Regions from separate parts of the Homo sapiens genome. Here region 2 is linked to region 1. Evidence: fine-mapped expression QTL. Tissue or cell type: T cells. Region 1 holds a variant in brackets; the other region holds the start of a gene. All regions are shown on one strand. Distances are between the middles of the regions.

Region 1 (8,203 bases):
AGGCATTCTAGTTTCAAAAAGGAAACAAAGCATAAAAGTTTGGAAAATTTGCAGCCTGACAATGCAGTAGAAAAGAAAATCCCATTTTCTGGGGGAGAAATTCAAGCTGGCTGCAGAAATTTGCATAAGTAATGAGGAGGCAAATGTTAATCACCAAGACAATGGGGAAAATGTCCCCAGGGCATGTCAAACACATCTGTGGCAGTCCCTCCCATGACAGGCCCTGAGACCTAGGAGGAAAAAGTGGTTTTGTGGGCCGGGCCCAGAATCTCCATGCTGTGTGCAGCTTAGGGACTTGGTGCCCTGTGTCCCAGCCGCTGCAGCTGCGGCTGAAAGGGGTCAATGTAGAGCTTGGGCTGTGACTTCAGAGTGTGCAAACCTCAAGTCTTGGCAGCTTCCACATAGTGTTGACCCTGTGAGTGCACAGAAGTCAAGAATTGAGGTTTGGGAACCTCTGCCTAGATTTCAGATGTATGGAAACATCTGGATGTCCAGGCAGAAGTTTGCTGTAGGGGCAGGATACTCATGGAGAACCTCTGCTAGTATGGTGCAAAAGGGAAATGTGGGGTGGGAGCCCCCACACAGAGTCCCTACTGGACCACCACCTAGTGGAGCTGTGAGAAGAAGGCCACCATCCTCCAGATCCCAGAGTGGTAGATCCACTGACAGCTTGCACTGTGTGCCTGGAAATGCCACAGACACTCAATGCCGGCCCATGAAGGCAGCTGGGAGGGAGGTTTTACCAGCAAAGCCACAGGGACGGAGCTGCCCCAGACCATGGGAACCCACCTCTTGCATCAGCGTGACTTGAATGTGAGACATGGAGTCAAAGGAGATCATTTAGGAGCTTTAAGATTTGACTGCCCTGCTGGATTTTGGACTTGCATGGGGCCTGTAGCCACTTTGTTTTGGCCAATTTCTCCCATTTGGAATGGCTGTATTTACCCAATGACTGTACCCCCATTGTAACTAGGAAGTAAGTAACCTGCTTTTGATTTTAGAGGCTTATAGGCAGAAGGGACTTTCCTTGTCTCAGATGAGACTTTGGACTGTGGACTTTTGAGTTAATGCTGAAATGAGTTGAGTCTTTGGGGGACTGTTGGGAAGAAATGATTGGTATTGAAATGTGAAGAAATGAGATTTGGGAGGGAACAGGGGAAGAATGATATGATTTGGCTTCGTGTCCCCACCCAAATCTTGTCTTGTAGCTCCCATAATTCCCACATTTTGTGGTGGGACCCTGTAGGAGATGACTGAATCATGGGGGCAGCTCTTTCCGGTGCTCTTCCTGTGATAGTGAATGGGTCTCATGAGATCTGATGATTTTAAAAATGGGAGTTTCTCTGTACAGGCTCTCTCTGTCTTTGCCTGCTGCCATCCATGTAAGATGTGACTTGCTCCTCCTTGCTTTCCACTATGATTGTGAGGCCTCCCCAGCCATGTGGAACTGTAAGTCCAATAAACTTTTTTATTTGTTAAATTGCCCAATCTTGGGTATGTCTTTATCGGCAGCATGATGGACTAATACAGTAAATATTTGTAAACCAAACATTTGATAAAGGGGCTCCTATACCTCAATAGTAAAAAACCAAATAACCTGATTAAAAAATAGCTGAAGGACTTGAATAGATATTTCTCCAAAGAAGACTTACAAGCAACCAACCCATACATGAAAAAGTGCTTAAAGTAACTAATCATCAGAGAAATGCAAGTCAAAACTACAATGAGATATCACCTCACACCTCTCAGGATGGTTATTATCAAAAAACCAAAAGACCACAAGTGTTGGCAAGGATGTGAAAAAGTTGGAACACTTTCACCCTGTTGGTAGGAATGCAAAATAGTGCAGCCACTATGGAAAACTGCATGAAGGCTCTTAAAAAAATAGAACTGCCATTTAATTTAGCAATCCCAATTCTGAGTATTTATCAAAACAGTTAAAACAAGGATCTCAAAGTGATATTGATGCCCCAATGTTCACTATAGCACTTTTCACAATAGCTAAGATGTGGAAACAACTTAAATGTTCATGGATAGATGAATGAAGGATATGTGTTATATACATTGGATATGATACTATTCAGCTTTCAAAAAGAAGGATATTGTGCAATATGTAACAACATGGATTAACCTTGAGGACATTATGCTTAGTGAAATAAGCTAGTAACAGAAAGACAAATGTTACATGATTCTACTTATAGGAGATATTTAAAATAGTCAAATTCATAGGATCAGAGTAGAATGATGATTCCCAGACTCTGGAGTAGAATGATGATTCCCAGACTCTGGGGGAGGAGGAAATGGAGAGTTACTGATCATTGGGCATAAAGTTTCAGTTAAGCAAGATAAATAAGCTCTGGAGAGCTGCTGTATAACATTGCATCTATAGTTAACAATAAGGCACTGTATACTTGCCATTTGTTAAGGGGGTACATCTCATGTTCTATTCTTACCACAATAAAATGTAGTGAAAAACAAAAACAAAAAAGCCCTAAAAGACACCAAAGAATGGACAGATAAGCCACAGGATGAGAAAAGATATTTGCAATACATATATCCAACGAAGGACTTTCACACAATATACAAAGATCTTCTACAGATCAATACACAAAAACAGACAACAACTTTACAAAAGAGGGAATGGTTCAAGTGGCCAATAAATATATTAAAAGATCCTCATATTTATTAGTTATGAAGAAAATTATAACAACAGTGACATAGCAACACAGCCATTAGAATAGCTAAAATTATAAAGAAACTCAAAATACCAATTTTTGGAAGTTGTGGAGCAGATGAAACTTTTACACATTGTTGGTGGGAATGTTAATACAACGTTTTGGAAGACTGGCATTACCTAGTAAAAATGAGCAATTATGTTTCTTAATGATTCAGCAATTTTATCTCTAGGTATACATATTCAAGTGTGTGGCCACCCATTAGATGTTAAGAATGTTCAGCTGGGCATGATGGCTCACACCTGTAATCCCAGCACTTTGGGAGGCAGAGGAGGGAAAATCTCCTGAGCCCAGGAGGTTGTGGTGAGCCGTGATTGCACCATTGCATGCCAGCCTTGGTGACTGAGTGAGACTCCGTCTCAAAAAAACAGCAAAACAAAATAATGTTTGTAGCAGTAGTATTCATAATATTCCTAAATGGAATATTCCTCAAATGTTCATAAATAATAGAATGGATACATAAATTGTAATACACTCACCCAGTAGAATCCTATATAGCAATGGGAATGAGCAAGTTACTATTAGGCACAAAAACATGAATGGATCTCATAAATTATTGAGCTGAAGAAATCAGATGCCAAAGAATACATACTATGTGACTCCATTTATATGTTGTTCAAAAACATGCAAAATTTAAACTTTAGCAATAGAAGGAAGAACAGTGGTTACCTGGAGGTAAGGGGTGGGTGCGTAATGACTTGGAGAGAGCACGGAGGAGATTTCTGGGGCGCTAGCATACTCGATGTCCAGATATGGTGGTAACACAAGCATGTTCACTTTGGGGTTGGCTGACCTGAGCTTGAATCCTGGCTCTTGGGGAGTATGACCCCAACTTACGTAACCTCTCCAGGACTCAGTTTCTTTATTTGCAAAGTTCAGATAGTGAAACCCAGAAAGATTAATGACACGACAACAGGTAAAGCTCCTAGCCCAGGCCCTGGCATGAGCTGGGGCTCTGCAGTTATTCATTTCTTTCCCCTCACTCTGTGGTTATAAATGCACTGCCTGACCTAGTTAAACAAGATACCACCCCTTGTCCCCTCTTCCTCCTCTACCATCCACACACATCAGTGAGGCCTTCTTTTTATTTTTTATTTATTTTTATTTTTATTTTTTTTTAGATGAAGTCTCACTGTGTTGCTGTTGCCCAGGCTGGAGGGCAGGGGCCCGATTTCAGATCACTGGCTAACTGTAACCTCCACCTTCCTGGTTCAAGTGATTCTTGTGCCCCAGCCTCCCAAGAAGCTGGGATTACAGGCGCATGCCACCATGCCCAGCTAATTTTTGTATTTTTAGTAGAGATGGGGTTTTACCATGTTGGCTGGTCTTGAACCCCTGACCTCAGGTGATCCATCTGCCTGGGCCCCACAAAGTTCTGGGATTACAGTTGTGAGCCACTGCACCCAGGCAGTGAGGCATTCTTTATGAAATGATTTATCTTTTATGAAAGGGTAGAGGCAAGGGCAGCCATCTATGCAATAGGGACTCTGTCTATGGCTATTCAGCAGAGTAAAGATATGTAACTGGCCTAGATGCCAAATCTATAGGCTTGGCTTTCTCAGGCTGGGCTGCAGGCTGTATGTATAGTATGTATTCCTCAAATGTAAGGATCTTTCCTAGTTCCAACTCTCTTCATGGGGAGGGCATGGCCTCTCACATGCAGATAGATGCCTGTCACTTGATTCATTCAGTCTCTTAGAATAAAGGATGAGGCAATGGCGTGGAGGGTATCCCAAGCTTTGGCAGAATCCCAATTCTCAGGATTAACTTTTACCTCCCTGACCTCTCCCTGCAATTCCTTTTGGATCGGGTGTCCTTAGCTTCCTGTCCTAAACTGTTGGAGGGTGGTTGCCGGGCAGCTGTGAAACATCTGCCACCACATTCCACCTTCATTGGAGAGGTGGGCAAAGTGATATATGTGTGAATTTTCCAAATATTGTGTGTGTGTGTGTGTGCACTTGTATAAAATTTCATTTTTAAGGCCCTTCACAGAGTCTCAGGGATGAAAGCATGGAGTTGGTGCTATCATTATTACCGTGAGGCCCTCGTATTGCTTTGGCATATATAATGTTTCCCAGGCATATAACATTTTTCATTTAAAGAGGCAGCCTAGAGCACATTCCAACTTCAAAGATTTTCCTTTCTGGATGGTGGTTTTCTGCCCTAAGTCCTTGGGAAAATGTTGCCACATTTTTTTTTCTTTTTCTTTTTCTTTTTTAACCCAAGTGATTGACTTCCTTGAAAGGAGGAGATAGAGCTCTTGTAAAGATTTAATTTTTATGAGTTCTCTAATTCTCTCC[G/A]GGAAAAAACAGATTACTCCTCAAAGTTACTCTATGGGGTGTAGAGCCCCAGTGGCAAGGCAGAGGCCGGCCCATGGGTGTGACTTCCTGTTTGGTGCCGGTGGTGCACTGCAGGCTGTGGAGCTCAGGGTCAGAGGGAAGAATGCAGTCTCTGGCAGAGCCGGCTTCAATTCCGGTTCCATTTCTTCTCAGCTATGTGTCCTTGGGCTTTTAACCTCATCCTCAAAAACAGAAACACCATCTCTGCTCTGAAGGACTAAATAAGATAGTGTACATAGGTGGTTTTCAACTGGGATGATTTTGCCTCCTCCCACCATGGGGTACTGGGCAATGCCTGGAGACATTTTTGGTAGTCAGGATTGGAAGTGGGGTTTGCTACTGGCATCTAGTGGGTAGAGGCAAGGGATGCTGCCAACATGCTACAGTGCCCAGGACAGCCCTGCAACAAGTAATTAATCAGCCCAGAATGCCAACAGTGCGAGGCAGGGAAACCCTGGTGTACATGGCCACTTGGGGCAGAGCTGTCCTTTAGTGGATCTTCCCTTCCTTTCTTTTTTCCTTTGGTCTGTAATTTCTTCCCCAATCATTTTCCCCATGGAGGACCTTCTTGGAATTTTTGATGTTTTTTTTTTTCCAGTGAGTTCACCCCCTGCTTCTCTGCTGTGGTTATTTTAGATCTCTTCACTCCCATCAGAACTCACACCCACAACCCCTTCCCTCTCACTCTTAGCAGATGACAAACTTAGAGGGAAAATTGACATTTCCAGAGAATTCATTCATTTTTTCTGCTCCCAAGCCCACTGACCTACTTCATCTGTACCTTTGAGGCAGACATGGCTATTTCTAACCCAGAGTTGCCCCTTTCTTCTTTCTCACTGAAGCACTGATTCTGTTCGTGTGCTGGGTGGGAACTGGGCCCAGCCTTGGTCTGTGCGTGACTGTTAAGTCCCAATTTTACATAATGAGATGTGTCAAGAAGTCTTGTGAAGTGCTTCTGAAAAATGTTTTTCTTTCTTCTAAGAGAAAAGTGCATGAAGAGAATTATGCCCTTTACGGACACATGGTTCCTGGTTATGAATGGGGTATGTAAGGATGTGATGCTTAGAGCTGCTGCAGCCATCCTGCAACCATGAGGCAAAGGTGAAACAAATTACAGAGCTGTTGATTCTGAGCCCTGCCAACATTGAACAGTTTAATTAAGGGTAGCAAAAAGCTACTGTTTGACTTTCAAATGTCCAAGCTACTTTCCAAGTTACAATCCCAGAGGGTGTACTGTTACCTGAACCCGACAGAGTTTCTAACATATACAGCATCTTCTTTCATTCTTGTCCCAGTGAAATACCTCCTGGATCCAATCTCCATCCATCTCCTCAGAGATTTGCCTCTACTATTATTATTATTTCCTCCCTCTCTTCTACATCTTTAAAACTTTTCGTTTCTTGTATTGGCTTTTTCTTAGATGTATTAAGACATGATCAAATCTCTCCCATATTACACAACAAACAAAAAGCATCATTCCCAAAACTCAGCCTATAGGTATTTCTTTCCAGGTACTTTCCTATCTTTCATCTTAATGTTTACAGTAAGTGCCTCCTAAGCTTTGCCTGCACTTGCTGTCTCCTCCTTCCTACCTCCTACATTCTCCTCCTTCATCTTGACAATCTGGATTCCACTCCTACCACTCCACTGAAACTTGCCAAGGTCACTGAGACTTCCACTTTGGACTATCCAATAAGTACTTCTCAAGTCAGATATCATCATAGCAAAATCAATTTACCCCACCCTGTTGATATCCTCTTTTTCCTTGGCTTCTGTAACACTGCTCTCTCTGTGGGGTTCCCTCCCATCTCTCTAGCTAATTTCCAGGCTCTTGTAATGACACATCCTCTTCTGCCCTGTTAGAGGGGCTTTGCTGGCTGTCCTCTCTTCCTTGTTGCCCCTGCTCTCTGTAGAACGTCATCAGCAGCCCAGCAAACATTCATTATCTGGGGGCTGACATAATGCCAAACTTCTGTCTCCAATCCAAAATTTCCTGGTTTGGAGTCCACGTACTCATCTGTTCTTAGACAACTCCACTTGGATATCTCTCAGGAACCCCGATCTTGATATATCCAAAGCTAAACTCAAGATCTTTCTCCAAAACCTCATATTAGTCAATGGTCCCACCATTTACCTAGCTGCCTCAGCCAGACACCTGGGGGCCACCATTGACTGCCTCCTCACCCTACCTTTAACTCCGATCTCTCATGAGCACTTTGAGTAATATTCTGCTTTCTGTAGTGTCCAATGCTCTCTACCTTTCTTTATTTCCTGCAACTCTCTCCTTACTTGTCTCCCTGGCTATCTTGCCCTGCTCCACCCAAATCTGCTACTGAAATGCAAATCTGACCATGTGTGTCACTCTCCCACTTGAAACCTTATGGTGATTATTACCATGTGGGTCAGACTCATGATCATGGCTTATGAGGCTGTCTTCTGGTCACTTCTTTCCCTCACTCTCTGGGGGAGCGCAGGCCTGAGATGCAAGCCTTCCTACAAAGCTCAAATCCCATCTCCTCTTCCCCACCCCACCAACCTGGATGACTCTACTTGCTTCTGAAAGCTGAGATGTCACTGGCCTCTAACAAGTCTCTCTACACCCACCTGTCTGAATGAGGAGCCACTCCCATGTCCCAACTCTCCCTCGTGTCTCAGAGCACTGAGCTGAATTCACATCATTTCTTTAAGCATCTGTATCCCTGTTAAACTGTCAGCTCCATGACATGTCCCAACTCTCCCTCGTGTCTCAGAGCACTGAGCTGAATTCACATCATTTCTTTAAGCATCTGTATCCCTGTTAAACTGTCAGCTCCATGAGGGCAGACCTTGTGTCTGACTTGTTCCCCATTTGTATATGCTCCCTGAATATTTGTGGAGTGACAAGAATAACAGGATGAATGAACAATTATGGATATGTCAAGTGTGCTCCCTTGCACCGCCAGACGACCTCTCCCTCTGGCTCCTTCGGACTTCTCTCTTTCTGTGCCCCATTTCCAGCCCAGCACCTTCTACAGTCCACGTGCATTTTCTGCCCACCTTTGCATACATAATCTCATTACATTTCTTTTTATCCTTACACATGACACATATGGGGTGGCATTTTTATTTCCATTGCAGAGATAAAGTTTA
Region 2 (8,164 bases), 80 kb before region 1:
ATGATGTTACTTTCACTCAGTCTCTCAGGCTCAAAACTTTGAAATCAACTTCCACCTTCTTTTCTTCACTCCTAACATTAGCAGTTATCAAGTCCTGATGATTCTTTGTATCCTCTGCCATTGCCTTTGTTAAGTTTGCACCACCTCTCAGCAGACAATCGCACTAGCTGCCCACGTAGATTCCCTGTCATCAGTTGCCTACATCAATCTAGCTTAAAATAGGAAAAATATATCTGATCTCATTGAGAGTTCTCAGTTGACTTGCTTCTGTAGAGGTGGGCTGACCTAACTTCTGCATTTCCAGGCTGTGAATTTATTGATGGCAAGAGATCTGTCTTATTCATTGTTGTGTCTCAGTGTTTAACAGAGTTCCCACATGTAACTGCTGCTTACTACGTGCTTGTGAATGTTGACAGGGCACTAGTGAGTGACTAAGAGCATAGGGTTTAGAATCCAATAGATCTAGGTTCAATTTCTGCCTTCTCTGCCACTTAGCTATGAAGTGACCTTGGACTGATTAACACTAAGTCAGTGATTCTCAACGCTCAGGTGGGGCTCGGGCACTAGAACTTTTAATAAATCTATGGGTGATCCTAATATGCAGCCAAAGTTAAGAATCACTGCTTTTAGCCTTAATTTCTCATCTGCTATTTGGTATCTATTTCAAATGGGTTTTGAGCATGTGAAATGAGATTTAACTTAGCACAGTGCCTGGCACACAGAAAGTGATTACCATCAATCATGATGTTAAAATACAACTTCAATTTGCAATTTTCTTTTCAATTGCTACCCCCAGCTCTGCCTTTCTTTCAATTCCCAGAATGCACCAAGTTTTTCAGCTTTTGTGCCCTCACACCTGTTCTTCATCCTGCTCTTAGCAGATCCCTCTCAATCTTCAGCTCACGCATGGTCTCCAGGTATTCCCCTTTATTCTCCATCACAATATGGAGATGTTCCATCTTCATGGCACTTGTCTCAGTTTGTAATTACATATGAATTCCACCATTTACTGTGTTTCCCCCACAGGACTCTAGCTTCACAAAGGAATGTGGCTTGTCTGTATTGATTTCCTCCTAAAGTCCAGTGCCAAGTGTCTGGTACCTGCCAGGTGCTCAGGTGATAGCTGGCTTAGTAAATAATCCATTCTGATCTCTCAAAAAAGCAAAATTCCTTGACTTTCTATGTCCCTCAAACATATTTCACATCAAAACACCGTAACAAAAACCAAAACCAAAAAAGTAGAATGGTCTGTAGTGTGTGGGGTTCTAGCTACTGAATAGGAAAATTGCAATAGTAAAAAAATTATCTTGGATGTTTTTAATTTGGGTAATGTTTCCAAGTCCAAGGTTCTTAGAGGCTTACTGAATGGCTTAGTCATCAACCTGTAGGCAATAATTAATGTGACTCCTACAATATCTCACTCCAACAAAGTCAATAAACTTTTGTGGGTGTTTGTATTAGCTAAGTAAAGGGCTTTTTGTTTTCTAACTTATCTTTGATCTTCTTGGTTGGGAGACCAAACAACATATAAAGCTAATGGAAAAAACCTTTCTTGAGGTCAAGAATTATCAAATTGTTGATACTTCTACCTATAAAAAAGACCTCAGAAATCATCTAAACCAATCTCTCATTTTACAGATGAAAAGAAGAAAGCCTAAAAAAATGAATTTATTGCAAGTGATTACACGCATACTGTCTTAGTGCTAAAATACAATCCAGGTTTCAAGGATCATTCACCAGCGTTCCATTGACCACATTACACCAACTTCAAAATAACTCAGTTGTTATGATTTCTTGATGTTCTTAACCAATTTATATTCTGGCATCAATTAATTTAGGATTTCCATGTTTCCATAACAAAAATTTAGTCCAAATTCATGAGCCTGATGTTTAGAACTCACATGTCTCACCATACCTCTTTGTACATGCCAGACTCTGCAATCTGTTTCATGTTTTTCCAACTCTGAGCTTCCACCAGAATGCACAGGCTAACCATATCTGCATATTTACCCTCAACGCCCACTGAAAGACCACATCTTCCATGAAAACTTTCCTCAAATCTGGTCAAAGAAGACAATGGCCTTTTGTATTTCTCCTAGGGATTTTATATTCCTCCTTGTACTGCAGTAGGAGTAACTGCATTAGATATAGGAACCTTGGAACTGGTGCTATATGGTTTTTGCTTTTTAGGTTCTGTCACTACTTGCAATTAATACATATTTAAACGAAAATAAATGCCCCTCTAGGTTACAATGTTCCATAAGGATTTTCTTGAAGGCAATTTCTAAGTGTCTGAAAAAAGCTCGGTTGGAGTAGACATGAACTGGACATACAGGACTTGTATTGCTTTAAGGAAATACATGATGTCAGAACATTTTCAAATTATTGTCTCTTTTCTGAATGCTTTCTCTATTCTTTTAAAAATCATCGTCCATTCTGTATAATTGGCCCAGATCTTTCTTACTGGTAGTGTAAAAACTTACAGGAGTGAAATTTGAAAGCTACAGAAAACATTAGAGAAAACACTAAGATATAGGAAATGTTAGAGAAGCATCATGCAAATACTTGCCTAGAAACATTTTGTTGGAATTCAGATTCTTTTTCAATTTTCAGAAGTAAATGTAGATAAAAAGGTCAAAAAACAAAAATCCATCTTATCGTTTATCAGTTCAAAGTAAATGAAAGGAGTTTACCATCTGACAGTCCTTTGGAAAACTATTATGCAATTACTCTCGGCCCAGATTTCATCTAGAACATTCAAGTCCATTGTAATCTTACCACATCCATACACGTTTTGGGTTAAGCCACCTCCAAATGGAATAGCTCAATAACTAATACACTCAAGAGAGATTATTTTTTCTCTCTTTTTAAAAAGAGTTGCTTAAAAAAAACAAATTCAGGGGGCAGCTCACGCCTGTAATCCCAGCACTTTGGGAGGATGAGGCGGGCGAATCACGAGGTCAGGAGTTTGAGACCAGCCTGGCCAATATGATGAAACTCCATCTCTACTAAAAATACAAAAAGTAGGCAGACATGGTGGCATGTACCTGTAGTCCCAGCTACTGGGGAGGCTGAGGCAGAAGAATCACTTGAACCCGGGAGGCAGAGGTTGCAGTGAGCCGAGATCATGCCAGTGCACTCCAGCCTGGGTGACAGAGAGAGACTCCGTCTCAAATAAATAAATAAATAAAAATAAATAAAAATTCAGAATAGGGAAGCAACTCCTCCTTATGACGAGTACCTTTCGGCACTTATATGGGCTTGCTTTTGCATTGATGGCACCACTTTCATTCAAAAAAAAAAGTTCGCTTGCACAATCTGCAAAGATCTGTTTGGCTTGGTTTCATGTTCTAAAAGTATGGTTTTAGATTAAATGAAAAATAATACTTCTGAAAAATAAGCGGTTATAAGGTTTTTAAGTTTTCTTTATGTTGGTGTAAACTTATAAAGCCCTTCCTATGAAAACTGTCCCCCAAATCACATTACTTGGTCGTCCTCGAGGAACGATTTTGAATGAAAAGCACATAAAGTGCTGTAGCATGGAGACGAGAGACAAATAACTATGCCCTTCTCCCAAAATAAGTTATGACTTACTAGGGGAGGAAAAGGAGCAAAGAGTATAAAGCCCGGTCCTCTGCGGGAAGTACCCGGAGGCCTGCCCCGGAACGCGCTCCTTTCGGCTACGAGATGAGGGGCACGCAGACGGACGCGCCCCTCGGTGAGTGTGCGTGTATCAGTGCATGATTCCTTTACTCCGCCCACAGGGTCTGGGCATCCGTCATTACCTACGGCTGCCTGGTCAGCAAACAACAGCAGATCCGACAACCGCCAGTCACCTCGACGGTCCACGCCCACCGCTAGCCTCCAGTTTCCCGCAGACCGGAAGCCCTTTTGCCCCGGCTCGCAGGTCCACGTCTTATTGACAGCAGGAACCGGAAGCTCTTCTGCCCCGATCGCCTGCGCGCGGCCTCGTTGGCCGCACAGGCGCAGTGGAGCTCGGGCGGAGTTGTGGGAGTGGAGGAGGAAGAGGCGGTAGGGGGTACGGGGGCTGGTCCCAGAAGATGGCGGAGGCGGGGGTGAGTTGGGGGTCTCCCGGCGAAGCGCGGGTGACGTGGTGCTGAGGAAAGCGGCCTGAGGAGGAGGGTGGCCCTTGGGAAGAAGAACTACTTGTGTTTTTGCAGCCTGGGAACCCTGGTGGCAGGTGCGGGGAGCCAGGACCACTGATGGGCCTGCAGGGCAAGGGGCTCCGCTTACCTGAGAGGGGTCCGCAAGGTCCAGAAGGGGACTGCGGGATCGGGGAGGGGGTATAGGAGGGGTCGAGGCTCCCCGGACAGTGGATGAGTGTCTGAGCGGGAAGAAGGCTGGAGGACGGCGAGAAGGGCGACCCAATGGTCTGATGAGGTGGAGGTCAGCGAGCTGTCAAGCATAGAGCTGCCAGGACTTGGGGGCTTGTAGCCTGGGAGAGAAGACTCAGACTTGGGCGGGGATTGGATCCAAAGAAGACAGGTTGTCGTAGTAAGTTTATAATCCACTAAGGAGATAGGGCATTGGGTTGAGGAGTAATACTCTGGCATTTTTGACTGGAATTGGTTACCTATGGAATAGGTGTTTCGGTAAAGCCAAATAATTCTTGCCAGGGCCTAGAAGTGGATTTGATGATAATTACTAGATTTTAGGGTTGCTTAGTGGGGATTGGCAATATGGAGAAGGAAAGCAGTGTGGATTATGGGAGTGGGCGCGGGCAATGGCGCTAACACTTAAGTGATAATGACCCATGTCCAGTTAACGTTGGAAAAAGTTGTTAAAGTATGATATTAGCTAGATGCTCTAGGAAAATATACCATGAAGAACTTGCTGTTTTGTAGGATTGATGAAGAAATGCTTTAAAAAGGAATGGTTAGGCTTGGCAGCTGGGCCACTGAAACTGTTTGGTATCAGTATTGCGGTGGAGCTGAGGACTGCAGGGGAATGCGTGCTCCCGTCCTGGTGCAGAAAAAATAAAAGCAGCCAGACAGTAGCTAGATGGTGTTTTGTAACTTTTGGGTTTGGCCCTGATAGTGAACCACTGAATGAAGATGGATGAAGGGAATGCTACTAATGGGGGCCCCAAAGAAAACAAAAATCAGACGTGTGCTCTTCCTGTTTTCTGTCTTTCATTCTTTCCCTGTACTTTGTGCTCAGTACTGTGTTTTGTCATTGTGTTATGTCGTAGTTCTCAGTTCACATCTGCTGTACAGTGACCAAGCTGTGAATCATGTCCACTCGGGAAAGAGGTTGATTCTGTTTAACTGACAACTGTTGCTTTTGCAGATGGTCACACGGAAAAGGAAAGAATAAAATGCAGTTCAGTAGTTTAAAGAGTTTTCTTTGTTCTCAGAAACTTATCTCGAAACGATGGAGTAACTTTTTTAGGCACTGAGATGTGACATTTAAAACCTGTAAGGGGCTGTAAATGCAGCTAACTTACTGGTTTCTATGTTTGGGTTTTAATGTTGAGAGGAAAGAGTTGCAGTGTTTATAAGGCAAATATTGCTTTTCTTCCTAGAAATTTTTAACGTCTCTAGCCCATGATACATGTAGATGTGTTTTTATTTAGGGAGCATTAAACTGTTGCATTGATTTAAGTCTGTTTTTTTCTAATGTTAGTGCTTATTCTATTTCAAGAATGCTATTCTAATTAAGAGAGCATATGATGAAAAATATGTGAGGTAGTAATTTAACTTTATTATTTAGTAGCTTACGTGACCTAAGCACCTGAAGAAACAGGGTTATCTGAGGGAGTAAAAATACTTCTTTTACGGCTAATCATTGGAAGAGGAATGGTCTTGTCATTTGGTTTTAGGGGGTGTTGCAGTTGTTACAATGCAACAGGTTCTTAAGGTTACTAGAAGATTTTGTATGTGTGTTTGTTTTCAAATGCTTGTTGCCTCTAAGTTGTTTCAGTGGCCAACATGAACCTTGATTTTTATTCACGAAGCTCATAATCACTTATAACTCTTTTTTAACCTGAAAGTAATAATATCAATCCATTAATAGGCAGCCATACACCTGGAATAATGTTTTTCCAGTATTGATGATTCATCATTGATCTATGCAAATTATTTCAACTTTTTTTCTTTTTGTTTAGTATTGTACTTTCCAGAAATTTTAGGCCAGGGCTCAGCGTAGAATTTTTCAAGTCTGGTGGAAAGTTTTTCTTTGTGAATTGTTGAAAACATTATTTTGGTATTAATAGTAGTTTACCAACATGATTTTAAAAACGGTTTCTTGTGTGGCACTTAAATTGTTTTGTACCATGTTTGTGAATGGAAGCAGTGTGGTGAAGCAGGAAGAACTCCGGACATGGGGTCAGAGTGGGTGAGCCTAGTCCTGGTGCTACCTGGTAACAGTTCTGTGATCTTGGAAAGTTACTTAACCTATTTTATTTTGTAAAATGGAAACTAACAACACCTGCCTATTTACCAAGATTGTTTTCGAGAATCTATTGACATATTGTCCTTTAAACAGTATCTTTATACCAGAGACTTTTTCCCTGGTCAGCAAATTATTTGTCAAGTAATCTAAATTTTTCAAATATAGATTTTTAAAAAAAATTTTGGAGCATCAAGTTTATCATTAATGTAAGACTAATATTTAAAGATATAGATCCACTTTGTTTTAAGAAAATGGTATCAGTACAAAATCAGAAAAACAAACTTCAAAGTAAACTAAGGGAGCTTACTTTCCCTTGAAAATAACCCACTCCTCTGACTCCTCTAGTGTGCAACTGATATTATAAACATGCTTTTAAAGGAATTTCATTGTTGCATGGTAGGGGGTGAAATGGTTTTGTGGACGCCTCTATCCCTTTGATGAGTCTGGTCATTTTCTGGCATTCACTATACACGTTTGTGGTAATAAGAACTGATGGTACTGTCTTAATCTTGTTAATCCAGTTGACTACTTTGCATGTCATTGGCCTTGCTAATAGAGTGAGAGAATTGTTAGATTACTGATTCTTTACTTTGTTTGGATCATGGACTTTTTTGAGTACTTTATATAAATTATGGAACTTTCATCCCAGAAAAAAATGCATATATATACAACTTTTTTGTTTTGTTTCGCATGGGGGTCTCATACCCCTTGGAATAGATGATTTCCCAGTTCCCTGCTATTTCTTAAAGCTTTTATTTTTTGTCACCAGTAATTATATACTATTGTATTATGATGTAGTTACAAAATTAGCTTTTTGAATCTCATTCAAATAAATGTCAAGCAAATGTGTTATTTTTAAGGAAAACTTTTGGGGCGAAGTAGAAAACTAAACAAGCACTGCCAGGAAAGGTTAAATAAGCAGCTGTGGTAGAAAACATAAATAAACAGAAAGTCTCTAGCTGTCTTGAAATAGAATGAAGTCTGTAGCAATCAGTGGCTCTCATTGTGGGGACAGTTTTGGTTATCACAAATAGGGGAGGGGGCATTTAGTGGGTGGGAGCCAGGGATGCTAAATGTTTTGCAATGCTTAGAACAGTCTCACACAGCAAATAATTGTCCTGCCTAAAATATCAGTGCCCTTTGACAAATGCTGGTCAGTGTGAGATGGGGGCTAGCATGACTGAAATAGCTTTTTTAAACTGAAGTTATTTTCCTTTTTAAAAATACTATTAAACATAAAATACCCCTTTCCATTAATTCCCTTTTGGAAAAATCACAAACAGAAACAAATGATACGCTGTCTCAATGTGGGTTACTCAAAGTATGCCCATCTTCTAGCAGCTGTTAGCAGCACGTGAGGGCAACGTGCTGTGTCTACTGGGATCTGGGGAAGTAAAGAGTCAACTAATGTTCTTATACAGAGTGTTAGTTTGCTATTTTTTCTTTTTACTTTAAAACATTTTCACACCTTGATCTAGTACTATTAAAGAAAATTTCAAGGTGATTTTACATTTATTCTCATCATCTTTGTGCAATTGTATAGTCACCTGCTTGTTTTGGCTTACTATCTGAGAGTGTATTATAGTTGAGATGGTATTTCAACATCTAACCATCTTTTCAGTAACCAAACACTTTTATATAGAACCATCTGCCGAAAAAGAAGTCTGAGCAGTTGAGATGGAATGGAATTCAAGGTATAGAGGCAAGAGGATGGGTTTTGGAATCAGACCTGAAGTGGAATTTCAGTTTT

What was found. PIP is the estimated chance that this variant, and not a neighbour inherited with it, causes the effect.
Region 2: INSIG2 starts here. The variant in region 1 is fine-mapped to the expression of INSIG2 in T cells (TOPMed, PIP 0.97).

The regions. Positions count from the first base shown.
Region 1 is chr2:118,164,344-118,172,546 of GRCh38, forward strand. No RefSeq gene overlaps it. Among named protein-coding and RNA genes, the nearest start is that of THORLNC, 18 kb to the right of the region's middle. RefSeq lists an enhancer at 5,096-5,145. The variant G/A (reference allele first, on the strand shown) is at 5,036.
Region 2 is chr2:118,084,466-118,092,629 of GRCh38, forward strand. It overlaps INSIG2 (insulin induced gene 2), which reads left to right and starts at 4,006. Exons shown (of 6, transcript NM_016133.4): 1 at 4,006-4,076. LOC107985940 (a long non-coding RNA gene) reads right to left here and starts at 3,966. Exons shown (of 3, transcript XR_001739662.3): 1 at 3,786-3,966. RefSeq lists enhancers at 3,711-3,760, 3,771-3,960.